Homo sapiens: one gene and its partners. The protein of the gene in region 1 interacts with the protein of each later gene in a pairwise test. Each region holds a gene or a part of one and is shown on either strand. Other genes may lie near its edges.

Region 1 (5,739 bases):
CCTAGAGACTGACCCAGCTTTTGCTCGAGAGCATGGGACAGCCTCTACCCTTAGCTCCCGGCAGCTGCTGCGTTTCGCCAGTGATGCGGCCAATGGCATGCAGTACCTGAGTGAGAAGCAGGTGTGTGTGAGTGGGGGCGGGTGGAGGCCAGAGGGGGAAGCCACTGGGCTGGTGTCAGTGGAAGAAGTCAGCCGGCCCTGATTGTATCTGGGGATTGAGGTTCCTGGCCCAAGTGTGTGGGTGGGTGCAAGCACAGCGAGGAGGCAGGGCCAAGGGGCAGGTCTGGAGGAGGTGGGGACTTCCAGTATGGAGGGTGCGGGTGTTGAGTGAGCAGGTCTAGATGCTAGCCTGGAACTCAGGAGAGAGGCCCAGGCTGGAGACAGCATCTGTGTGTGAGCTGTCACCCCACAGATGGTGCCTAATGGCAATGGGCCTGGTGCGATCTGCCGGAGAGGGGGAAGGGCAGAGATCCAAGCCCAAGTCAACTCAGGCCTGAATGAGAGGACAGGGGGATGACTGTCCAGGGGAGTGTGAGTCTGAGGGAAGGCATTTTATCTTTTTTTTTTTTTGAGACTGAGTCTCACTTTTTTGCCCAGGCTGGAGTGCAGTGGTGCGATTTCAGCTCACTACAACCTCTGCCTCCTGGGTTCAAGCAATTCTCCTGCCTCAGCCTCCTGAGTAGCTGGGATTACAGGCATGTACCACCACACCCAGCTAATTTTTGTATTTTTAGTAGAGACGAGGTTTCACCATGCTGGCCAGGCTGGTCTCGAACTCCTGTCCTCGAGTGATCCACCCGCCTCAGCCTCCCAAAGTGCTGGGATTACAGGCATGAGCCACTGCACCTGGCCAGCATTTTAAAGATAGTAAAGTTTTGAGTATGTTTGAAAGCAGAGGGGCAGGGGAAGGGGCCAGTGCAGAGGGAGGGGCTGGTGGAGAGAGGTCTCTGGGGAAGCTGGAGGGCTAAGGGAGAGAAACTGGAACCCAGGGGATGGGAAGAGGGAGGGGGAGAAGCATGGAAAGAGGAGAAGGTGCAGTATGGCCACCACTGTCTCAGGAAAAGGGATCCAGCCTGAACTTGGTCAGGGCCCAGGAACGAGCGGGTGAGAGCCAACACTGATCTTTCTCAGATATGAGTCAGCTGACGAGATTGCAGCCAGGAGGGTAGGAGTATGGGGTATTGAAGGTAACAAGGGTACCCACGAAGACTGACTCCTTACTGGCCTGACTGTCCTGGGCTCCCTCATCCCCAGTCTCTCCTGACTTCTGACCCTGCCTACAGTTCATCCACAGGGACCTGGCTGCCCGGAATGTGCTGGTCGGAGAGAACCTAGCCTCCAAGATTGCAGACTTCGGCCTTTCTCGGGGAGAGGAGGTTTATGTGAAGAAGACGATGGTGAGTCTCATTCAACCCTCACCCTTAGGGCTTGTGCCTGGCCCTGCCCCACAGGAGCCTCAAACAGGCCCTTCCTCCACACTCAGCCCCTCAAACCCATTCTCTCCTAGGGGCGTCTCCCTGTGCGCTGGATGGCCATTGAGTCCCTGAACTACAGTGTCTATACCACCAAGAGTGATGTGTGAGTGTGAGATGAGAGGGCACAGGAGGGCTTGGCCCCCAAGAATCACCCAGGCCTGACCTAGACATATCTCAGAAATGTCATAGGTGGTCTAAGGCATGACCTGGGCTGTGTTCCAGGTGTGACACAGGTGTGTCTTGGGTATAAAGTACCTAGCCAAGGTGGGGCTTGCTGGAAGGAGTCTTGGAAGGTGTTTCAGGAATAGGACTGGGGTAAAGGTAGTTTCGGATTATGTTTGTGTAAGTGACGGGGGATGCCTTGGAGAGGTTTGGGAATGCTGGCGGATGCTTCCTGAGGTAGATGGAGAGGCCACTCAGGAATTGCTCTCATCTTCCTCCCTGAAGGGCAAGGTCATGCCCACCTGAGGATCTTACCAGAGCATGACCCCCAAGACTCCCTCTCTGTGCCCCCTCCCCTGCAGACAGCCCTCTTGGCACACTCCTCCTGTCTCTCCAGGGATGTCCATCTTGATCTGAACCTACCCCTTGCCCCAAGCCCTTTGGCCTTGCCTGCATGGCTCACTGCTTACCACACTGATCACTCCTCTGACCACTACATGCCTACTTCGTGCTTCTGCCCCAACACTCCCTTGATTCCCTCCACCCCCTTTGAACTCTCTCCCCTGGTCTCAGGGCTGATGCACACTACACAGAGGCTGTTAAAGTGTGAGATGCAGTCAAGAGTAAGAGCTTTGGAGCCTGAGTTGGAACGCTTGCTCTGCCACTAACTAGCTGTATGGCCTTGGGCAATCTAGCTAACCTCTCAGTGCCTCAGTGTCTTCATCTGTAAAATGGCAAGACTAATAGAACCTGTATCATAGGGTTGGTGTGAGGGTTAAATGAATTAACATGTCTGTTAAATGACCAGGGCCTGGACCACGGTAAGTGCTCAATAAAAATGTTAGCTCGGCTGGCTGTGGTGGCCCACATGTGTAATCCCAGCACTTTGGGAGGCCAGGCAGGCAAATCACTGGAGACCAGGAGTTTGAGACCAGCCTGGGCAAGATGGCAAGACCCTGTCTCTACTAAAAATACAAAACATGGCCGGGCGTGGTGGCTCACGCCTGTAATCCCAGCACTTTGGGAGGCCAAGGCGGGCAGATCACAAGGTCAGGAGATCGAGACCATCCTGGCTGACACAGTGAAACCCCATCTCTACTAAAAATACAAAAAGAAATTAGCCGGGCATGGTGGCGGGCACCTGTAGTCCCAGCTACTTGGGAGGCTGAGGCAGGAGAATGGCGTGAACCCAGGAGGCAGAGCTTGCAGTGAGCCGAGATCTCGCCACTGCACTCCAGCCTGGGCGACAGAGCGAGACTCTGTCTCAAAAAATAAATAAATAAATAAATAAATAAATAAATAAAAATACAAAACATTAGCTGAGCATGGTGGCACACACCAGCTACAAGGGAGACTGAGGTGGGAGGACCACCTGATCCTGGGAGGTTGAGGCTGCAGTAAGCCACTGCACTCCAGCCTGGGTGACAGAGTGAGACCCTGTCTCAAAAAAAAAAAAAAAAAAAAAACAAAACAAAAGAGCTCTAATTGTGCTGAGCCCAGGGATGGGGGCAGTATGAAGGAGCTTCATTGGCGCAGAGACAACAGCTGGCCAAGGCCAGATACTTACAGAGTAGACACATACAGCGGGGCTGGGAGGCACTGCACATCTTGGGCAGGTAGAAGCTAAACTGCTAGGGACCAGGGCCTAGAAGGTAACTAAGTGCATCCTTCTTATTTCAGCTGGTCCTTTGGAGTCCTTCTTTGGGAGATAGTGAGCCTTGGTGAGTTCCTGATCCCCGTCCCCCAGAGTGCCCCACCTTACCCCACGTGGAGCCCTGGACCGAGAGCACTTTGTCCCCTCCTGCAGGAGGTACACCCTACTGTGGCATGACCTGTGCCGAGCTCTATGAAAAGCTGCCCCAGGGCTACCGCATGGAGCAGCCTCGAAACTGTGACGATGAAGTGTGAGTCACCCCATCCTTGAGCTCCATGATCCTATCTCTGTGATGAGTGACCTCAGCTTTGATCCCTGTGACCCCATCACCCCAGCTGGCCTGACTCCTCATCTCAGCAATGCCCCCTCGCAGGTACGAGCTGATGCGTCAGTGCTGGCGGGACCGTCCCTATGAGCGACCCCCCTTTGCCCAGATTGCGCTACAGCTAGGCCGCATGCTGGAAGCCAGGAAGGTGAGGAGACTGGGGCTGAGGTGGCGGGCTGGGCTCACAGAGTGCTCCAGAGTGCCCTCTCAGAGGTGCCATGACCCCTGTCCCAACCACACTGCCTGCCCAACCTCCCTCAGTGGGGGCTGTCACCACGGCTAGGCTGGGCCCCAGGATGCAGCCTGCCTTTCCAGCCCTCACTGGTTTAGACACCAGGCCCTTCCAAAACTCTTCCAAGGCCACTGCTTAGCCCCAACAGCAAATCCCTACCTTAAGCCCCAAGTCCCAGACTGCTTGCCTGTCCTCTGCTGAGGCCATCAGCCTGTCCTCATCTGGGACACCTCTCCCCACCTGCCAGAGCCAGAGCAGAGTGCATGAATAGTCACTAACCAGATGGATGGATGGGTGAATGAGTGATACAGTAACCGTATGAATGAATGAATGGAATTAGTGGATAGATGATACAATAATCATATGAACATGTAATTCAATAACTCAATCTACTAACCATGTGAATAAGTGAATTATCAAATAAATATAATGAAAAATATATCAAAATTAGTAAATATGAAGAGTTCTTCAAGTAAATTAATGATTAAATAACCATCTTAAGAATGAAGGAATGATCAAATAACCATATAAATGGATGAGTCGTCTAAAATGGCTTTTGAACAGATAAGTTACTGAATGAATGAACGCATAAGCCAAGAATTCATTGAAAGAGTGCATGTAAAAACCCTCCTCTAACAATGGCATTGAGAGCCTCTCACCTGAGGCCCCAACTGTGGCCTGATGCCTTCACTGCCCTGGGCTGGTAAAGGCCACTCTTGGCCATGGGGCCATCTTAGGTCTCCAGAACAAATCAGTGTCAGTTCAAATGCCCCCACCACATGGAAGTCCAGGAGCTTGAGGCCAGATGCACCCCCATTCCTGGCCCCCACTAAAGCTTGCTCTGCCCCCAGGCCTATGTGAACATGTCGCTGTTTGAGAACTTCACTTACGCGGGCATTGATGCCACAGCTGAGGAGGCCTGAGCTGCCATCCAGCCAGAACGTGGCTCTGCTGGCCGGAGCAAACTCTGCTGTCTAACCTGTGACCAGTCTGACCCTTACAGCCTCTGACTTAAGCTGCCTCAAGGAATTTTTTTAACTTAAGGGAGAAAAAAAGGGATCTGGGGATGGGGTGGGCTTAGGGGAACTGGGTTCCCATGCTTTGTAGGTGTCTCATAGCTATCCTGGGCATCCTTCTTTCTAGTTCAGCTGCCCCACAGGTGTGTTTCCCATCCCACTGCTCCCCCAACACAAACCCCCACTCCAGCTCCTTCGCTTAAGCCAGCACTCACACCACTAACATGCCCTGTTCAGCTACTCCCACTCCCGGCCTGTCATTCAGAAAAAAATAAATGTTCTAATAAGCTCCATTCAATGTCTACCTTTTACTGCTGGTCAATCTTGGGGTGAGGGGCGTAGTTAAACCCAAGAGACAGAAACTGGCCGGGCGTGGTGGCTCACTCCTGTAATCCCAGCACTTTGGGAGGCCGAGGCGGGTGGATCACGAGGTCAGGAGCTTGAGACCATCCTGGCGAACATGGTGAAACCCCGTCTCTACTAAAAATGCAAAAAATTAGCTGGAAGTGGTGGCGGGCACCTGTAGTCCCAGCTACTCGGGAGGCTGAGGCAGGAGAATGGCCTGAACCTGGGAGGCGGAGCTTGCAGTGAGCCAAGATCGCACCACTGCACTCCAGCCTGGGCGACAGAGCGAGACTCCGTCTCAAAAAAAAAGAGACAGAAACTGGGCTTTCTAGGAAAAGAAACACTGTCTGAGGCCTCAGCCCTCTGTTGAGGTTGCCTGTCCAGGATAGGAGGTGCTCTGGAAGACTCATTTTACACAAACACCACCAGCCCCTACCTCTGTCCTGATTAGAAGGCCAGTTTTCCCCTGTTCCCTTCCCTGCTCTCCAGCTTCCATCACTAACGTGTCTCCCTGTGTATCTCTAGGTAGC
Region 2 (7,112 bases), on another chromosome or scaffold:
CTCTATTGCCCAGGCTGGAATGCAGTGACACAATCAGCGCTCACTGTAGCCTCAAGCCATCCTCCCACCTCAGCCCCTCAAGTAGCTGGGACTACAGGCACATGCCACCATGATAGGGTTTTACCATGTTGCCCAGGCTGGTCTCAAACTCCTGGACTCAACTGATCCGCCTGCCTTGGCGTCCCACAGTACTGGGATTACAGGCGTGAGCAACTGTGCCTGGCCTGACCTGACCTGTTGTGAAAATAACTATCTTTGCGATCACTGGGAAGGAGGGTAGCTAAGCAGGAGGGAATTTGCCCCAGCAGCTCTCTGCTTCCACTCCTCAGGAAGAGCAAGCTGAGGCATGAAGTCTTATACCTAACAGTAAGGAGGCCCCTGAAATCTGGCAGCACGCTGCAGCTGTTGAAAGTCCTCAGCCTTGGCTGTAATCCCAGCACTTTGGGAGGCCGAGGCAGGTCAGGAGTTCGAGACTAGCTTGGCCAACATGGCAAAACCCTGTCTCTACTGAAAATATAAAAATTCACTGGACATGGTGGCATATGCCTGTAATCCCAGCTACTTGGGAGGCTGAAGGCAGGAGAATCACTTGATCCCGGGAGGCAGAGGTCACAGTGAGCCAGACTGCACCACTGCACTCCAGCCTGGGCAACAGAGTGAGACTGTGTCTAAAAAAAAAAAAAAAAGAAAAGAAAAAAAAGGCCCCAGCCTTGAGGCCTAGACATGACGCATCTTAGGAGGAAGCTATTGCCCTGGAAGAACCCACTGTCTGCTGGGTTGAAGCCAGGGTTCCCCACTGGAAACCTCTAGGGCTTTAGCTACACCTTCAGTCACTGTGGTTTCCAGGTAAACAGCTGAAAGGGTGCTGGCTTTTCCAGAAAGATCTGTGTTCTGATTCTATTCCCCATTCCTCTCTTGGCCTCTGTAGGCTCTGATCACAGATGAAAGCCCCTCTTCTTTCCTTACCCTGAAATTACAAGTCAAGAAGGGAAACAAGTGCGCACAACTCAGGCTTATCAAAGCATGACTCCACATGAGGCTGTGTGACATCCCCAAGGGCCTTTAATAGAAGAGGCCCATGGACTCTGGACTCAAAGTTCAGGTACTCACATAGTGTTCCCCCAATGGGTCCCTGGAGGGCCCTCTCTAGGGGTCACAGACTTACATGAGAAGAGCCCTCACATTCCCATACACCTAAATACTAAGACCATCCATGCCTACTAATCTTGCTCCAAATCTGCCCTCAAGAAACCAATCCCTGGACAGTCCCTCCCTGGAAATCTGTCAGAGGCAGCTGAAGTGAACCCAATCCCAACGGCTCAATGACTTGTACCCAGGGCTTGTGGGAGCAGAGGGATGTCTGAGGATAAATGACAGTCCTGAGGTAAGTATGGGGGGAGATAGACAGGACTCTAGGGAAAGCAGATCGGTGGGAGTGAAATGTGAGAGATGGAAGCAGTAGGCTCTGGGGCAAAGAAAAGTCAAATCACTCCTGCAGCAGCACTAAGAACATGGAGCTGAGACTGGATTCCTGTACTACCATCAACAATCCTGAAGTCTCTCCTGGCAACTGGGGAAGAAGCATGGCCTGAGATCTTTTTACTTTCTAATTTCACACAGGCCAAAGGCCATGCATGCTTGCCTTAGCTTCTCCTTATAGCATACGAGGGAGAAACAGACCAAGAGTTTACACTCACAGGGAACATCCAAAGATCCATACATGAGCATTCTCACTGCCCTGCCCCACCCCCCTGACATGGCTGCCCATTTCTGAGAGGTGAAAGGGACAGAGACCACCACCTACTGAGAGATGAGAAAAGAGGAGAGGTTATGTGACCCATTTAAGGACACACACCAGGCAAGGGAGGTACTACAGTGCCATTCCTTCTTGAGAGATGAGCTAACAGGCTCAGAAAAGGCAAGGCTGACACTTGAAGATACAGCTGGTGAATAGAGCAGCTAGGATTTGGCCTTAAGTTTTTCTGATAACAAAGCCCAAGTGCTGAACCCACATGCTGCACGGCTTCACAGGAATCAACTCTGACCACATCCCACAGTCTTGCAGGCCTTCAGATCATACGGAATCCAGCCCTCCTCTGAGAACCTCCCAGAACTAAAGGCTTGGCTAGCAGCTTAGAGTGCTGCCTGGGGCCTAAATTGTAGGTTCTAGGGTGGGTGATCTGGGGCTGGAGTTGCCTGTTTCAGTGGCTAACCCCAGGTAAGTGAGGAGTGCTATCAAGCAGGGATATCTGTGCTTCCTTCAGAGATGGCTCTTGGGCAAATGGGGCTGGAGTAGGAAGTCTTTACAGAAAGGTGCAATTTTTTTTTTTTTTTTTTGAGAGAGTTTCGCTCTTGTTGCCCAGGCTGGAGTGCAATGGCATGATCTCGACTCACGGCAACCTCCGCTTCCCAGGTTCAAACGATTCTCCTGCCTCAGCCTCCCGAGTAGCTGGGATTACTAATAGGCATTCACCACCTCGCCCAGCTAATTTTGTATTTTTAGTAGAGACGGGGTTTCTCCATGTTGGTCAGGTTGGTCTCGAACTCCCAACCTTAGGTGATCCGCCCGCCTCGGCCTCCCTAAGTGCTGGGACTACAGGCGTGAGCCACCATGCCCGGCCTGCAATTTTTTTTTTTTTAAGCCTTCGAACATCTAAGATCTTGTTTCTAGCCTAGGGGCTGGCTGCAGAGGAGGCTGTGCCAGGCACAGTGACCTCAGAAGCTCTTTGATGACTTCACAGCTGCAGAGCCAGGACCTGTGCCATCCTGGAATTTCAAGGTCTGACTGGCTCCTGACTGCCCTCAGCTAGGATCCAGGGCCCCCTTTCCCTTCCCAACTCCCCAAGGCACCCTGCCTCCCACCTGCCAACAGGGGTGGGGGGATGAGCTGGATTGCGGTGCTGGTGGTAAGGCCCCAGCATGTGCCATTCATCCAGCCCATGGTATGGAAGGCTTGCTGAGAGGCCCTCAGGCACCACAGCTGAGGAGCAGGGCTTGCTCCCCTGGCCACCAGAGGCTTTCTCCTGCCTGACATCCATGAAGCGGCAGAACAGGCCAGGGGCAGGTGGTTTCCCCAGAGGCAGCTGCTCCAGTCAGGTGGACACACTGTTAAGGGCTGGAAACTCAGGGTTTTGTAGGTGTGGGATCTAGAATCCCCATCCAATTCTTATTCCTGCCCAGAGGCAAAAACAGAAGACAAGGCGGGTAGAGACAGCAAGTAACCCTAGGTTCTGCTCAGGAGCAAAGCTTCGGGCTAACCCAGCACCACTCTGGCTCTGGCCTCCACCATACACCTACCTTCACTATCCCACTGTTCTGCCTTCAAACGATTCTCATGTCAGGCAAAGGCTTATACAGAAATAGAATCTTCTATAGTTACAGTCCAGCAGCTTTCCCTTTGGGTGCACCTGAGACACCAGTGGATGGGTTTTAGAGGCTGCAGAGTGAACACACAAACCAGTGCACTTCCTGACCAGCCACAGGCCTCCTTCATACCTCGGGTCCAGCAGCTGAGAGAGGGGAGGGCAGGAGGCCAGGCCAGCTCCTGAGCGCCAGCCTCATTCCTACCCAGCACTCCTGACTGCTCACCAGCTTTTCCCATGGGCAGGGGAGCATCCTGCCTTCTCAAGCAAGACACTTACAGACAACTGTTAGGGAGCTCATCCGGGAAGCTGAAAGGGAGAGAGGAGTCTGTGTGCAGGACAGCCCGCTCCTGAATACTGCCACAGCCCGTTACCATCTGCCAGCTGCCATAGTCTGTGGAGAGAGAGGATCCGGGCAGGGGATGGTCCACTGATCTGGGGCAGAGAGGAGAGAGAGGGGAGAGGATGCAGTCAGTCATATGCCTGACACAGGCTCTGGAGGGGGCTAGGGGACTAGCGCAGCCCTGGCTGCTAGGTTCTGTTGTCAATCACTGTCTCCAAAAGTCTAAAAAAAAAAGCTGGACAAGTAGTGACCGAGAAAAAAGAATAGATCACCAGGTAAGCTCAGCTGTGAGGACAGTATTTTGTGCAGACTTACTGTGGAAGCAAAAAATGAGAACAAAGCATGGCAGTAAGAGTGAATCGGAGCCACAGCCTGGGGCCAGGGCATGCCTGCGCTGGGAGTGAACACGGCAAGGACAATCTCAACAGCACCAAAGGAAGGCAGCAAGGCTAGCACCCAAATGAAGGTGACCCAGCAGCCAGCCGGGTCACCCATACTTGCTGGCATGCAGATTTGCAGGGTGGGCAACACAGAACCCAGGAGTCCCATCAGAAGAGACAGTACGGGCCTCTTGGGGATTGTGGAGGGTATGACCTAGACTCAAGAGTGATGGAATGGGAGCCCTGAGGTCCCCCCTTTCTCTGCAGTGCCTTCCAGGTGCCATAGTTTGTATTCAGAAGCATCAGCCCAGCAGACTCAGTGGCTATGCCCAGAGGGAAGGGATGAATCAGGCAGGCAGCCTGACAGCTTCCTCAGGCCTTCTTCAGATGGAGGTTTTGGGGGTGGGAGGAAGAAGGTTGTGCTGGGAATCTACCGCTTCCACCTCCTCCCCACTCACAGCCAACCCCCCTCTTCTGTCCTGGGCAGTAGTCCAGCCAGTGTGGGTCGGGGAGGCAATAGGGAGACATCAAACAAGGCCCTTCCACCTGCTACCCCAGGTCCCAGTCCCCAGGACATCATCTTTGATGCTTGACCCTTTATTCTTTCATCCAAAAACAGCAGGAGGTACTCCAGTAGGGATCCAGAAACAGGAATGAAGAGCAGGGATTGGGGGTGGAGAAAAATGTTCACTGCCCTTGGCTCCCCCAGCTGGCTGATGTCAAGGGCTCCTAGTCTGAGGTGACAGCCCGACTGGTCACCGTGCTAGTCTTATCCCCAAGCAGCTGCCACTGGAGTGCAGCCAGCCAGGCACTGCAACTCTGGCAATCCTTAACCATCCCCATCTGTAAGACAGGTGAAGACACCTGCTTGAGGTATCACAGCTAGACAGTGTGAGAAGAGGTTTCTGTTTTTGTTTTTCCCTGCTCTTGTCGCCCAGGCTGGAGTGCAGTGGCGTGATCTCAGCTCACTGCAACCTCTGCCTCCTGGGTTCAAGCAATTCTCCTCAGCCTCCCAACTGTAATCCCAAGTAGCTGGGATTACAGACGCCCGCCACCATGCCCGGCTAATTTTTTTGTGTCTATTTTTAGTAGAGATAGGGTTTCACCATGTTGGCCAGGCTGGTCTTGAACTCCTGATCTCTGGTGATCCGCCTGCCTCAGCCTCCCAAAGTGCTGGGATTACAGGCGTGAGCCAGTGCGCCCGGCTGAGAAGAGATTTTTAAAACCAAGAATGATTACACATTTGTCCTGAAACAGAACCACCTTGGGACCAGGGAAAACAGATGGTTTTCTATGTTAAGGCTGCCATAAATCGGAACCCCCTACAACATACAGACTTGTCACATTCATCATTCCTGCTAAACTCTAGAAGGTGCGTGATGGCAGCATTAGGGATGAGAACGGGATATGGTCTGTCACCTGACGGAAGCCCCTAGGGCCCGACAGAGCAGGGCTTCCTTGTTTCTAGATGGAGAAACTTGGGCTCAGGCAGTCTGTAAATCAAAGAGACAGCTCCCCAGGAGCAGCCTGCCCTGTGCCCCCTCCAGGTCACACCAGGCCTTCAGCCGGCACAACCCTGAGATGCATCCTAGCTCCACAAATCTCGTCTATTGTTCAAGCTGCAGGGTAGAATCTTTTCCAGTTCTAGCAGCTTGTGGGAAAACAACAGCTAAAAACCAGAATGTTGAGGGAATGGAAGGGATGCTGACTAGGTTGAGGCACAGCTGGGGCTGGGAGCATGGGGAAGTTTCTCAGGCCCCAAAACCACTCCCCAAGAGCCAAAGAGTAACACTGGCAAGGGAAACATGACCAATGGGATGGAGTTACTGACTGGCTCCCCTCAAGGATTCCAGGTCCCCTGGGCTTGTCACTTCCCTTTACTTCCCCCATGTCTCAGTAGGTAACACCGGCCAAGAACCGCACTTGCAGCAGCTGTCGGATGGATTAGGCAGCACAGACAGCAGCAGGGTGTGTGATCCCAGGGGACAGAAGCATCTCTCAGCAAGCAGCCATCTTCTGCAGACTCTGGGATTTTTCAAGAGTGAGCACACTGGCTACAAAGGAGTCTTCCTACGTGAGGCCTTTGTCAAAGGAAGGGCTACAAAGTGACCATTCAGCTCCTGGGGTTGAGAGCAAAGGGCCATGCTAAGCAGGAAGGTGTTCACAAATACCACCATGGATTAGCTGGCTGCAGGGGACACCTACAGTGCATCATGTCACCGGGAGTAAGGACCTGTGCCCACATACTGAGAAGGGAGGAAAAGCCTTCCAGTCAGTCTAAGAACACAGGTAACTTAACCAGCTTCAACAAGAGCCCAAAGTCTTTTGCCCTGAGCAGCAAACAGAGGGATCCAAGCTCCACCCCCTCTGCTCTCCCACTACAGGACTGGAGAGAACATGGGACCAAGCAACCCTCAAACTGGATGGTGGCGGAGCTGAACAACGCTTCAGAGGTCACCTGTCCACATCCCAGCGGCTCAGACCTCTGCCTAGGAGGGTGGGAGCTCAGCAACATTTCACTTCCTTAGTTGGATGCGGCTCAGGGCCCTCTTCACAGCACCCAGAGCTGCAGTTCCTACCGGCTCCCAACTCCCCCGATGCCCTGCTGATGGCCAACTCAGAGCAGGTGTCTTTTAGCTAGTCCTTTCTGGAAGGGGGTACAAGAATACTCACACAAACCGAGCTGGCTCAACCCAGGCAAGAATACACAGGTCGGGATGGAGGCCTGGCCTTTTACGCAGCTGCCTAGTGCCATGACAGAGCCTACAGGCTCTCGGACAAATGACTAAGGCCAAGTCCTTAACCACAGCTACAGTTTACTGAGCATTCGTGAAAAGGTATCTACTATGAGTATTTACTCCATCCATCCCAGTCCATCCCAGTCCATCCCAATCCATCCATCCATCCATCCATCCATCCAATCTATCTATCTAATCTATCTTTTGTATTGGCAAGGTCTCACTATGGTGCTCAGCCTAGTCTTGAATTCCTGGGTTCAAACGATTCTCTGACCTTGGCCTCCCAAAG
Region 3 (7,112 bases), on another chromosome or scaffold:
TATGGGTGAAGGGGCAGGGATGTGTAGGAAGACAGTTCTAATTAGGATGAAGGAATTATACTAGGAAGTAGAGGTAAAGGAAGTGAGAAGGCTTACTAAATAGAAGAAATGTGAACTTATCAAATAGGCTAGAGTAGACCCCTGCAGATTCTTGATTAAGTGAATTAACTAGATTTTAGAAAGGTAATGAGGCAGTCATATGCAAGGAAGGTTTCAAAGTCTGGCCACAAGAAGTCAAGCAATACTTTGAGAAGTGGTTGAGCTTTATGGGAGTGTAGAGAATTACACTATTGAGAGATGTTAAAAATAATGAAGAGGGTTTCACCATGTGAAATTGTGTTTCTCATTTGAATCTGAGAAACAAATGAGCAGAGGCTGGAGATAATTATGTCTAAAAGACAGTGGGGTACAGGGAGCATAAAGGCCAGGGAGAAAGGGAACTGCAGGAATTAGTTCTGAGAAGCAGGAGTTTAGTGGAGGAAGGAGGAGATGCAGTCCCAGATACAAGCAAATAAGTCTTTTCCCTCTCCCAAGCATGGCAGTCAGCCCTGCAGGAACCAGGATAAGAGAAAAGGCCATCATACCTGCCAGTCTTCCTGAAATACAGAAATGACTTCACGGCTGCTATATTGGATTAAGGAGAGGAAGACGTCCTATTCCTGAAGGAGCTGTCATGGAAAGAAAAGTAAAGAAGGAATGAAGGTGATGTTATTTTACATGGGGGAGCCTCAGGAAGAGGCATGTAGCATGAGGTACTCTATAATTGTTTCTTCAAGTACTACATTATTCCTCTTGGGAAATTGATGGGAGATGATTATATTCTTGCAGTTTTTTTTTTCCCTCTCACCATGTTTCTAGGATGGTGATCAGTCCTCTGTCAAATCTCTACTGCACTCAGATATTTTGGAAGGCTTTCAGACATAAGAAAGGCTGATTGCTATTTTCTATGTCATTAGAACTTACCACCTTTTCACCTTTTCATGGTTGCATCTTTTTCTCAGTCTCTCTGTTGTGGCAGCCATGAATGAGACTCTGTCAGGTCTCCATGGCAGGGAGCTGATTGACAGAAGGCCCACGTCCGTGCATTTCACATTCATCACCTCCTTTGCACAGAAAGCTTCTTTCCCACAGGCTCCCAGGAAGGGCGTGAAAGCAAGCCTAGTTCTCTGAGGCTCTCTTTAACTCTAAAGGGTGACTGGTTGGAGGACTCCCCCTCAGCCTTGCAAAAACTCTTAGAACTGCATTGGTACCTAAAACTTCTTTCTCTTTCTTTTTCACAGGAATCAGCTCTGCATAGTGGTCTGTGGGTTCTCCCATACTGCCTTCATGTCTGCCCCACATTCCCTCACAGGTGTCCTCCCTGATAAATTATCTTGTATGTCTAATCCCATCTTGGGTGCATCTCAGTTGGTAAAAACTAACATATCAGGCTTGATTCTTTGCACTTAGCTTTTTTTCCTTCTCTCCCACAAGTAGTCAGTAACCATGTCCTAGTGTTTTATGTGTTACCTCTTTTTCCATATATATGGAAAAAGGTAGGTACTGTTGAGGGGCATTTCCTATGTGCCAGGCCCTGTGCTAAATACTTTACCTGTATCTCATTTAATCCACACAATAACCCTGTCAGGTAGAAATTATTTCCACTTTGCTGATGAAAAGACAGAAGCTTATCATGGTGTAAAAACTTTCCTGGTGTCATATGGCTAGTGACAGGTGGATCTGAAATTTGATTCTAGGACTATTTGACCTCAAGGCTAATGATGATGGTAGTAATATAGCAGCTGACATTGGCTCCTCTGTGTGGCATCTTGTTTCATTGATTGCATTAAACATTTAAAAGAATGGTATGAAGAAAGCACTCTCATTGCAATTTTCAGGTGAGGAATCAGAGGTTCAGAGAAGTTGAGTCTTGTGCAAGAAATTTATAACTGTAAACTCTTACATTAAAAAAGAAGAAAGATCTCAGGTCAACAACCTACTTTAATACTTCAGGATATGAAAGAAGAACAAACTAAACCCAAGCACAGTGAATGAGGGAAATAATAAGGATTAGAGTGGACATAAATAAAATGGAGAATGGAAAAAGAATAGAGGAAATTAATGAAACCAAAAGTTGATTCTTCAAAATAAAATCAACAAAATTGACAACCATTAACTAGATTGACTAAGAAAAAAAGAGAAAAGTTTAAAATTACTCAAATCAGAAATGAAAATGGACTCTGAGCATGGTGGGTCATGTTTTAATCCTAGCACTTTGGGAGGTCACAGCAGAAGGATTTCTTGAGACCAGGTGTTTGGACCAGCATGGGTAACCTGGGGAGATGCTGTCTCTACAAAAATATAAAAAACCAATTAACTGGGCATGTTGACATGAACCTGTAGTCATAGCATCTTGGGAGGCTGAAGAAGGAGAATTGCTTGAGCCCAGGAGGTTAAGGCTGCAGTGAGCCATAATCACACCACTGTATTCCATCCTGGACTGGTCTACATAGTGAGAGCCCGTCCCTCTCTTCAAAAAAAAAAAAAAAGAAAAAGAAAGAAAGAAAAATGAAGCGATTACTACCAATTCTAATAAAATAATGATTATGAAAGTACTATAAATAATTTTATGCAAATAAATTGGATAACCTAGATGAAATAGACAAACTCCTAGAAACACACAAAAATATGAATAGAACTATAATCAGTAATAAGATTGAATCAATAAAAGCATTTGATGAAATTCAATATTTTTTCATAATGAAAACATCCTAAGAATAGAAGGAAACCACCTCAACATAAAGGCAATATGTGAAAAACCCAATGCTAGCATCATACTCAACGGAGAAAGACTGAAAGCTTTCCCTGTATGAGCAGGAACAAGACAAGGATGCCTGCTTTTGACACTTTTATTCAACATAGTATTGAAAGGTCTAGTCAGAAAAATTAGGCAAGAATTGAAAAAAAGACATTCAAATTGGAAGGAAGGAGTAAAATTCTTTCTGTTTACAGATAACTTGAACTTATATGTAGAAAATCCTAAAGGTGGAACAAACCAATTAAAATTAATAAATTCAGTAATGTTGCACAATACAAAATCAACATTCAAACATCAGTTGTATTTCAATACACTAAACATGAACAATCTGAAGGGAAATTAAGAAAAATAATTTCAATTTATATTAACATCAAAAAGAATAAAATATTTAGGAATAAGTTTAACCAAAGAGGTGAAATAATTATACCTGAAATCTACAAAATATTGCTGAAAGAAATGAAAGAAGACATCAATAAATTGAAAGACATTTTGTGTTCATGAATTGGAAGACTCAATATTGTTAGGAGGACAGTGCTGCCCAAAGTGAGCTGCAGATTCAATAAAATTCCTGTCAGAATCTCAGTGACATTTTTGCAGAAAAAGACAAATCTGTCCTAAAATTTATATTGCATCTCATGACTCTAAATAGACACATAGCTTTGAAGAGGAAGAATGAAGCTGGAGGACTCACACTTCCTGATTTCAGCATTTACTACAAAGCCCTAGTAATCAATACAGTGTGGTACTGGCATAAAGGAGGACATAGAAATTAATGAAATATCATAGCCCAGAAAGAAATGCTTGCATATATGGCCAAATGATTTTCATGGAGTGTTCCAAGATCATTCAATGGGGAACGGACAGTGTTCTCACCAAATGATATTGGGAAAGCTGGATATCCAAGGGCAAGAGAGTGGAACCTTTACCTAACACCATGCATAAAAATTAACCCACAATAGATCAAAGATCTAAATGTAAGAGTAAAAACTACAGAACTCTTAGAAGAAAAGCTTCATGATACTGGATTTCACAATGATTTCTTGGTTGTAACAACAAAAGCATAGGCAACAAATAAAATGGATTAATTGGACTTCACAAAAATCAAAACCTTTTATATATCAAAGAACATTATCAAGAAAGTAAAAAGGCAACCTATGAAATGATAAAAATATTTGCAAATTATATGTGTGATAAGAAATTAATTTCCAGAATACATGAAAAGCTACAAGTCAACAACAGCAAACATCCAAAAACCCAATTAAAAAATGAACAAAGGATTAAAATGGAGTTTTCTCCAAGGAAGATATACAAATATCCAATAAGCCCATGCAAAGTTCCTCAGCATCACGAATACTTAGAGATATGCAAATCAAAACCACAATGTTACACCACCTCACACACTTTAGGATGGCTTTGATAAACAACAAAAATGACAGCAACACAAAACAACAGGTGTTTTCAAGTAGATGGAAAAATTGGAGCTCTAGTGCATTGCTGATGGGAATGGGAAATGTTATAGCCACTGTAAAAAGTGGTGTGGCTGTTTCTCAAAAAATTAAACAATAACTTACCATTTGATCCAGCAATTCCACTTCTGGACAAACTCCCCATAGAAATGAAAAAAAATTGAACAAATATTTGTACACTGATGTTCAGAGAAGCATTACTCACACTAGCGAAAAAATGGAAACAACTGAAAAGTCCATTGAAAGATAAGTGGGTAGGCAAATGAGGTGTATCTACAATTAAAATGTTATTCAACCTTAACAAGGAATAAAATTCCAATACATCGTGCAAAATGGATGAACCTTAAAGATATTATGCTAACTGAAATAAACCAGACACAAAAGGATAATTATCATATAATTCCATTTATAAAAGATAGTTAGAATAGCCAGTTACATAGAGACAGAATGTAGAATGGTGTGTGCTAAGGGTTATGGGGAGAAGGAGTGAGTTACTGTTTATTGGGTACAGAGGTTTAATATGGTAAGAGGAAAAAGTTCTGGAAATGGATAGTGTGATGGTTACACAACACTAAATTGCACACATAGAAATAGTTAATGGTAAGTCTTATATTAGATATATATAAAGTGTCTGGTAGTCTTACCCTCTCTATAATTACACACTTTTTGGCACTGCCCCTTTCCTGCCATGCAGAGCCCCAGGGGTGAATCTCTCTATTTCTCCAGCTCTGCATCAGTCACTATCCTCCGTGCTGTGTCCCACATGCTGTGCCCACAACCTCATACAACCGGTGACTTCAGAGCCAGGACGCAACGCAGGAGTCTTCCCTGAGGCTCCCTCTCTTCTTATTTCCCTGCAGCCTGGCCCGGGGGAGGCTTGGCTTCAACTGGCAGCTCGATTTAGCCAAATTCAGGACAGGCCACCAGGACTCTTTCTCCACACATGCTGGTCCCACCCCAGGTTGAGTGAGGCAGGCCCAGTCACCAGAGAAGCATGGAGCAGAGCAGGAAGCAGAGTCTGAGCTGCTCCTCCCTCACCCAAGGGGCTTCCTCGTCTCATTTGGGGGAAAAGTGTGAGCTTGTTTCAGAGCCTCAGATGTTCCTTGTAGCTCATGGAATAGGTACAAGGAAACAAAGACATGGCAGAAGGGGATGTGTTGGTGACATCGAGAAGCAACTTGATCTTGAGGACTCTCCTTCTCATCCCTCTGTGAAGCCTCCTCTACCACATAGGGCTCAGGGCTGATAAAGCCCCCTCCCTAACTTTCTTAGGCCAGACACAAGGTCAGCCATGAGAAAACAGAAAAACAAGGAGAAGAGAGTTTGTAGAGACAAATTGGAAGGGTTCAGGAGGAGAATTTGGGATTTGCTTGTGCCCATGGGACACAGGCTGGGAATAAAAATGTTTTCCTAACTCTTCTCTGAAAGCCAGGTAGACTCCACCTAAAACCCTATTGCCAAGGATGCTGGGATCCACTTACCAGAGACTTCGACTGTCATGGATTTGGAGCTTTCCTTGCCAGTAGCTGAGTTACGAACAGAGCAAGTATAGAGCCCTCTATGCTTTGTAGTAATTTGGGGGATAGAGAGCTTTTGTCCTGATTGCTGAAACTTCCCATTAATTGTCCAAAAATACTCTGCCGGTGGGTTAGATTCCGCGAAGCAGGACAAGTAGAGGTTTTCTCCTGAACGGTAATAGGTGAATGAAGGGTAAATGCTGGGGAGGTCTGGACCATCTGGAGCAAAGAGAATGAAGCCACAGGTGATGTCATCCAAGGGAAGGGGATGCTCCTGGTCTCTTAAAGGGACACAGTGACCCTCTGAGCCAAGACACACCCTCAAGTCCCAGCCGAACCCCCACTATATTCACTGAGCCAAAGCCTGAGGTATTCACCTGTTTCTCCCATCACAAGCTATTGACACAAAGTCTCCCATGACAAGAGCGCCCCCTCCCCTTATATTCCTGGTTAAGGCTGTGCCTACCTAGGTTTTCCAAGGGCAGGGAGTCATGGCCAGCTCAGATGTCCAGAAATAAAGGTGTCTATACTTGGACCGGAGAAAGACTGAGAGGACTGGCTTGTGGTCATTTAGATTTAAGCTGGTGTCCTGGCCCACAGAGGAACAAAAGATACTCACAGAGGACATTCAGGGTGACTGGGTCACTGCGCATGCCACCATCTCGGTCCCGTATTTCACATTCATAGGGTCCTGTTTCATTTCTCGTGACACTGGGTAGAATGAGGATCCTGTTTTCAATGGGTCGCTTTACCCTGGGACTGACCGGGAGGCTCTGACCATTTAGCCACCAAATGTAGGTGTAGTTCTCACTCTTAGGTTCACAGGTGAAGGCTAAGACATCCTTATTCTCCCTGGGTTTTGAGTTGTTGATGGTGATGTAGGGCTTGGGCAGCTTCACTGTGTGGATAACAGAGAGAAGATTGTCCTGTGTGGCACCTTTGATTCCTCCACAGGCATCCTTCAATCAGAGTTGGCATCTCCCACCTGTCAACCCACCAGAGTCCTTGAAAGCCAGTAGCTGATGCATGTGTCACAAGATAGATGCATGATGATCTAAGGGCTCAAAGACTGTGAGGCCACCTGCTCTGTTTTAGGGAAGCACAGACTTTCTCAAGTGTCAATTGAGCAGCAGTGTTGGGTCATGAACAGACACATCAGTGGGAGTCACAGCCCCTGGTACCCCTCCCAGTCCCTCCATAATCAGTTGACTGGCTGGCTCACCCTGGGTTCCTTACCTGGAATGTGCAACTGCTGGGCCCCTTCCAAATTCCATCCTACTTTGTCCCCCTATATGTGATTTCTCTGCAGCTCCCATTTCCAAGGACATTCTA

Evidence for each region.
Region 2: the proteins of TIE1 (region 1) and MTMR14 interact in a two-hybrid assay, tested with the Homo sapiens proteins (one study listed by BioGRID and IntAct).
Region 3: the proteins of TIE1 (region 1) and PSG5 interact in binary tests that used the Homo sapiens proteins (3 or more experiments, as listed by UniProt).

Annotation. Positions count from the first base shown.
Region 1 is NC_000001.11:43,317,952-43,323,690, forward strand, and holds the end of TIE1 (tyrosine-protein kinase receptor Tie-1 isoform 1 precursor), read left to right. Parts: coding exon 1-121; intron 122-1,283; coding exon 1,284-1,397; intron 1,398-1,507; coding exon 1,508-1,578; intron 1,579-3,317; coding exon 3,318-3,358; intron 3,359-3,444; coding exon 3,445-3,541; intron 3,542-3,664; coding exon 3,665-3,764; intron 3,765-4,699; coding exon 4,700-4,771; 3' UTR 4,772-5,157; downstream 5,158-5,739. UniProt on the Homo sapiens protein: Transmembrane tyrosine-protein kinase that may modulate TEK/TIE2 activity and contribute to the regulation of angiogenesis.
Region 2 is NC_000003.12:9,694,396-9,701,507, reverse strand, and holds part of MTMR14 (phosphatidylinositol-3,5-bisphosphate 3-phosphatase MTMR14), read right to left. Parts: exon of another isoform or gene 5,983-7,112; intron 3,798-5,982; coding exon 3,642-3,797; exon of another isoform or gene 3,298-3,641; intron 3,173-3,297; exon of another isoform or gene 1,016-3,172; intron 1-1,015. UniProt on the Homo sapiens protein: Lipid phosphatase that specifically dephosphorylates the D-3 position of phosphatidylinositol 3-phosphate and phosphatidylinositol 3,5-bisphosphate, generating phosphatidylinositol and phosphatidylinositol 5-phosphate.
Region 3 is NC_000019.10:43,169,471-43,176,582, forward strand, and holds part of PSG5 (pregnancy-specific beta-1-glycoprotein 5 precursor), read right to left. Parts: exon of another isoform or gene 7,090-7,112; intron 6,679-7,089; coding exon 6,400-6,678; intron 6,000-6,399; coding exon 5,745-5,999; intron 2,086-5,744; exon of another isoform or gene 669-2,085; coding exon 625-668; 3' UTR 585-624; exon of another isoform or gene 535-584; intron 1-534.